Linked DNA regions of Homo sapiens. The protein of the gene in region 2 purifies or fractionates together with the protein of the main gene of each other region. This does not show direct contact. Each region holds a gene or a part of one and is shown on either strand. Other genes may lie near its edges.

Region 1 (2,708 bases), on a different chromosome or scaffold from region 2:
GGGTCAGGAAAGGCGCCTGTGCCAGGTGGGACCTCTGGTGGCTGCCCCCAAGCTGGGAACTTGCTGTCCCAAACCTACCCAGGCACAGAGAGGGACAGCGTGGAGCCAGGCTCTGGGGGCAGTGCTGGTGTGGCTCCCCGGAGGACAGGACTGGCTTCCCCGGTGAGCTCAAGCCCGAGCCACACCCTGCCTTGAGCTGCTGTCCCCTCCCCCCACGTCCAGCCTCACGGACTCAGCATCAGTGCTGAGGGCACTGGTGGCTCTGCCCAGTCCCCTCTGGGTGGCAGCTGCGCTTGGTCCCAGGCCTTCCGGTCTTACTTGTGCAGGACCGAGGAGTGGAGCCCTGCCCCCACCCCCGCAACCCCTACAGCCTGAGCTCAGCGGGCGGCTGACCTGCAGGAAGCACCCCGGGACCTTCAGGCCCAGCCTCCAGCACACACCCCCCTGCTAGGCCCCTCCCACTGTTGGCCTGTGGCACCCACCAGGGAGAACTGGGTCCAGGCTGGTTCCCTGTCCTTCCTCCTGCTTCCCACCCAGTCCCTGCACCCAAAAGAGCACCCAGCCAGCACCTCTCACCCCGAGGGACCCCACAGACAGGCGGAGTCACTGGGAACTGCTGAAGCTCTTTATGGAGAACCAGGAGAGGGGGCGCAGGGCAGGGGGAAGGCGGGGGGTGGTAGGAAGGGGTGCAGCCAGCCGCGTTCTGCAGGGGTGGGGAGCTTTTTCCATGTCCCTGTGAATGACGGAGGTGCTGGATGGTGCCGTCCTTGGGCTGCTGAGGAGCCAAGGTGTCCCCTGCCCTGGAAAGGGGGGGAGGGTGAGTGAGGCCAGGACAGCAAGGGTGGGAGGGGGATGCAATGTGGGGGCGCATGTGGGCTCTTGGGTGCTGCAGTGTGGGGGCCCATGTGAGCTCTCAGGGGCATGGTGTGGGGGGCACACGCTGCACTCTTGGGGGCTGTGATGTGGAGGGCACATGCAGGCTCTCGGGGGCTATGGTGTGGGGGGCACAGCAGGCTCTCAGGGGTGATGGTGTGGGGGGCACATGTGGGCTCTCAGGGGCATGGTGTGGGGGGCACATGTGGGCTCTCGGGGGCTATGGTGTGTGGGCACATGTGGGCTCTCGGGGGCTATGGTGGGGGTACACACTGGGCTCTTGAGGGTTACGGTGGAAGGCACATGCGGGCTCTCGGGGGCGATGGTTGCGGGGGCACGTGCTGGATCTCAGAGGCAATGGTGTGGGGGACGTGCACCGGGCTCTAGGGGGCTATGGTGTGGTGGGCACATGCGAGCTCTTGGGGGCGATGGTGTGGGGGGCACACACGGACTCTTGGGGGCTGCAGGTGGGGGCTCCAGCCTCTAGATTGGAGCGGATGGAGCAGGGACCACCCCCGCAGGCTGCTGACAGAGCTCCCTGCTGAGTGAAGTGGCATCAGGGTGACTGCAGGCCAAGGGGAGGGTGCGGGAAGGACAGCGATGCTGTCCAGGATTCTGGCTCTGCCCACACCTGGGCAGGTGACCTTGGGCGAGTCTCCAAACTCTGGTCCCCTTGTGCAGCCAGCAAGGGGCCCATCTGACACAGCGAGCACAGGCACGCCTGCCACTTTGCTGAATCTTTGAGCAACTTATCGGGTAAGTGGAGTCACAGGCATGGCCGAGGGTGAGGGGTGCTGAGGAGGAACCCGAATCTCCTGCCTGCTCCTGCCCATGTGACTGGGGGGTAGACACCGTCTCCACCAGCAGCCAGCAAAGGCGGGCTCAGCGCTGTGGGCTTCCCAGCTGCCCAGGAGTCACACCCAGGGCAAGAACGGAGTCTGACGCCCGAGCGTGGGCAGCTCAGGAGCAGAGCTCCCACCTGCCTGACCTACGTGGGGCATCTCCCACCCAGGTAGGAGTGGGATGGGTGGGAGAGACCCCATGGCCTCTGGAAGCACCACTGAGCCCCAGAACTGGATTTTCTCAAATGTCCTCTAAAGCTGTTCACTCACCCTAATCGCTCCCTGGAGAGCAGGTTTCTGCAGGAAAAGGAAGCACAGGCGTTAGGAGACCCCAGGAATGCAGTCAGGACCGGGGCCCCTCATCAGCCACCAGCTCCACCACCCCAGGAAGGACAAAGCCAGAATTAGACGCAGCACAGTTATGCGCCCGTGCAATGCAGCTCTGCTGATGTCCCCACGCGGGGACATGGGGGGCTCTGCAGGGCCATGCCTCCTACCGCTCTGCCTGGGGATGAGGATGCTCTCCGTGCTGAGTCCGCGGGCTCCTGCGGCTTTCTCAAAGTCCTCCAAGGCTTCCAGGTTGTTCTTGGGGTCTCTGCCTGTGGGTGCCAGGACGAGATGTGGGTGCTCGAGGCAGCACTGGGCCGACGGCACCCCATCCCAGTCTGGAGGCCTGAGCTGGGCTGGGGAAGGGGACCTCGCCCACCGTGGGGGGAATTGAACCCAGAGGCCCTCAGGCTGGCAAAGTGGGACCAGGGTGCCGTGCACGGCTGAGAAGGCTCCTGTGGCAGCAGAACCGGGAGAACGGGAAGGGCTCTCCATCCATCCCTGAGCATCTCCCGGAGTGAGGATGGACGGCACGACAGGCCCACCCTGGAGGAAGCGCCTCTCCCCTTGGGGGCACCAGGATCCCAATCCTCTGTCATTCGCACACCCCTGGCTCCAGGGAGAACTCAGGAGCCTTCATGGGCCTCGTCCTCTGACAGGGACAGC
Region 2 (3,500 bases):
ATTTTATCTTTTTTGTTGTCTTATTAGCTATAATTCTTAACGTCTTTTTAGTGATTGCTTTGGGGTTTATAGTATATATCTTTTATTATAGTTTACCCTCAAGTAATTTACTACTTCGCATACAATGTAAGAACCTTACAAGAGTATTTTCCATTTCTCCCCTCCTTTGTGCTTTTTGTTGTATACTTCATATGTGTTAGAGATTCTAGAATACATTTTTATTATATTTGCTTTAAACAATTATTTTTAAAGATGTTTAAATAAGAAAAATAAGGGGTTTTGTTTTTTTGTTTGTTTTTAGAGACAGTATCTCCCTCTGTCACCCATGCTGGAGTGCAGTGGCACGATCATGGCTCACTGCAGCCTCAAACTCCCATGCTCAAGCAATCCTCCTGCCTCAGCCTCCCAAGTTTCGAAGACTACAGGAGTGTGCCACCATGCCTGGCAAATTTTTTTAAAGATGGGAGTCTCACTATGTTGCCCAGGCTGGTCTTGATCCTCCCGCCTAGACCTCCCCAAGTGTTGGGATTACAGGCATGAGCCACCATGCCTGGCCATAAAAAGAAGTTTTTAAATATTTACCTACGTAGTTACTGTTTCGGTTGCTCTTTATTTCTTTGGGTACATCCAGATTTTCATTTTATGTTATCTTTGCTATTGCATGAAAGACTAATATTTCTGATAGCTTACATTTGCTGCTGGTGAATTATTTCAGCTTTTATATGCCTAAAGTCTTTATTTCACATTTTGTTTTGAGTGGGTGTAGGGTTATAGATTGTCAGGGTTTTATTTTTAGGCATTCAAATAAAAAATATTGCTACACTGTCTTCTGGCTTTTCATTGTTTCTGATAAGTCTGCTGTTCTTCTTATCAAAAGTTTCATGTGTCTGTTTTTGCTCTCTTTTTTCCTTATAGTATCTTATTTTTGTGTGTGTGGTTATTTTTTACTGAGAGCTGCTTATTTCCTTTGAAAATTGTGAAAATTTTTGGAGATGTATGGTAATGGTTTCTCCCTTGAGAAAGCATTTATTGGCTTCTGCCTAGGGCATTATCACTTTGGAACTTCTTTAAATTCTCAGCCTGAGATGTTTTGTTTTGACCACCCAGATGATTTGGACTCTGTGTACATTCAAAGGCCAGTTTGAAAATGTTCAGGCATAGACAAAAGTTTTATATTTACATTTTCTGAAAACTTAAGAAAATTTTCTTTTACTCCTTTCTCACCAAAGAAAAGTCTTGGGAAAGTATTGTATGGATTACTGTTTCCTGCTCCTCACAGAAACAACACATACACCCAAAACTTGCCCTTTCTCTCTTTATTGTTTCATTTCTTGGACATTTGTAATTCGTTACTGGTGACCTAAGACCTCAGTGCTAGCCTGCCATACTTTTCCTCGGGTTCTAATTTACATGTGCCTTCTGGTTCCTTCTGGGGAAATCTGTGTAGAGTGGAGGAGCTTTGGGTCGGTCAGGGTGGCACTTGGCTACCTTATTCTATGCAAAAGAATGAATTCCAGACTAAAGTATGTTCATCTGTTGATTCACACTGTTTTTACTTTGTTTTGTTTTTTTACTTTTAAGGAAGTGGGAAAACTCTTGCCTTTGCCATCCCAATGATTCATGCGGTGTTGCAGTGGCAGAAGAGGAATGCTGCCCCTCCTCCAAGTAACACCGAAGCACCACCTGGAGAGACCAGAACTGAGGCCGGAGCTGAGACTAGATCACCAGGCAAGGCTGAAGCTGAGTCTGATGCATTGCCTGACGATACTGTAATTGAGAGTGAAGCACTGCCCAGTGATATTGCAGCCGAGGCCAGAGCCAAGACTGGAGGCACTGTCTCAGACCAGGCGTTGCTCTTTGGTGACGATGATGCTGGTGAAGGGCCTTCTTCCCTGATCAGGGAGAAACCTGTTCCCAAACAGAATGAGAATGAGGAGGAAAATCTTGATAAAGAGCAGACTGGAAATCTAAAACAGGAGTTGGATGACAAAAGCGCCACCTGTAAGGCATATCCAAAGCGTCCTCTGCTTGGACTGGTTCTGACTCCCACTCGAGAGCTGGCCGTCCAGGTCAAACAGCACATTGATGCTGTGGCCAGGTTTACAGGTGAGGTTTAGTTCCATTTAATAAATATTTTCTAGGTAAATCCCAAATGCTCGTTGGTAAAGATGAATGAGCTGTGGCTCCTGCCCTCTAGGGTAAGCCACTCTCATCTATAAGCCAGACAATTAAGCCCTACAGAAAATTGATATAGTGACATTTTTTCAGTTCCCTCAAGGATAATACATGGTTGGTGCCATTGTGGATGCATAGGAAATTTATTGGATACAGTAGATGCTCAGGGCAGGGATTAGCAAACTGTCTGGTTTTATAAATAAAGTTTTGCCGGAACACACCCACACCCATTTGGTTTTATATTGTCTGTGGTTGGTTTTGTACTACAAAGGTGAAGTTGAGTAGAGTTAATAGTTGTGACAGAGACCATCTGGCCTATGAGGTCAGTAATGTTCACTAGTGACCCTTTCAGAAAAAGTTGGCTGATCCCTGCTCTAAGCTATTAGGATTTAATTCTCTCAGGGAATTCACTCTGGGAAGGGCTTCACTCTGGGAATCTTAATTTTATAATGAAAGCAGCAATTAATTACCAAGTTGTTACTATTGCTAAGCCCTTTACCCACATGATACTATGAGAATTTCTGCACCAGAGACGAAAACAACAGGGCATTAGTGGACCTTTCAGAATAATTCTAACTGAGGGAATGGAAGGGCTTCCTAGGAGAGGTGTAGCACAGCTGCAGGTCATATTCCTCCCAGCATTATGGTGCCCCAGTGCTCCGTTTTCCCAGAGCTTTGGAGGTAAGCATACCTGGGTTCAAATTCAGCCCCTTTGGTGTGGTTGGAGGGGAGGGAGTAGAAAAGAAATGAGGCTGAAGAAGTAGAGCTCAGATCACAGAAGACTTGGTAAGCCCTCTAGGAGTGGCGTCAACAGTCTGGCCAGGCCTGCTCTTTTAGCAATGCTCTAGGGCATTACACTGTGCTGATGTCTGTCTCTGCTAATCTGGGGTGCCTGTGTCAGCCATGTAAGAAAATGATCACCCAGATTGAATAAGTGTCCCTTATGTTTTCTGTCCCATAGGAATTAAAACTGCTATTTTGGTTGGTGGAATGTCCACGCAGAAACAGCAGAGGATGCTGAACCGTCGTCCTGAGATTGTGGTTGCTACTCCAGGCCGGCTGTGGGAATTAATTAAAGAAAAGCATTATCATTTGAGGAACCTTCGGCAGCTCAGGTAATAGATGGCACTTCTCTTTTCCCCCTCACTGCCTTTTCTGAAATGAGCCTTAGGTGACATGGTGTGGGCAATGCCTTCTTCTCATCGCAGAATGCTATGGTGTGGTATCATCCAGACCCTGGCCTTTAGAAAGCCAAGAGTGCATGAGGGAGATTAGTTGAGGGCCTGATGGTGGTGGTGGTAGTGGGGTGTGTACGTGTGTGTGTG

What was found.
Region 1: the proteins of DDX24 (region 2) and LCN1 purify together in Homo sapiens (affinity purification with mass spectrometry, with the first as the bait; one large-scale study listed by BioGRID). This does not show direct contact.

What each region holds. Positions count from the first base shown.
Region 1 is NC_000009.12:135,524,436-135,527,143, reverse strand, and holds the end of LCN1 (lipocalin-1 isoform 1 precursor), read right to left. Parts: exon of another isoform or gene 2,642-2,708; coding exon of another isoform or gene 2,315-2,641; coding exon 2,213-2,314; coding exon of another isoform or gene 2,037-2,212; exon of another isoform or gene 2,013-2,036; coding exon 1,987-2,012; coding exon of another isoform or gene 1,986-1,986; intron 801-1,985; coding exon of another isoform or gene 627-800; 3' UTR 604-626; downstream 1-603. UniProt on the Homo sapiens protein: Could play a role in taste reception. Could be necessary for the concentration and delivery of sapid molecules in the gustatory system.
Region 2 is NC_000014.9:94,060,703-94,064,202, reverse strand, and holds part of DDX24 (ATP-dependent RNA helicase DDX24), read left to right. Parts: intron 1-1,581; coding exon 1,582-2,106; intron 2,107-3,136; coding exon 3,137-3,290; intron 3,291-3,500. UniProt on the Homo sapiens protein: ATP-dependent RNA helicase that plays a role in various aspects of RNA metabolism including pre-mRNA splicing and is thereby involved in different biological processes such as cell cycle regulation or innate immunity.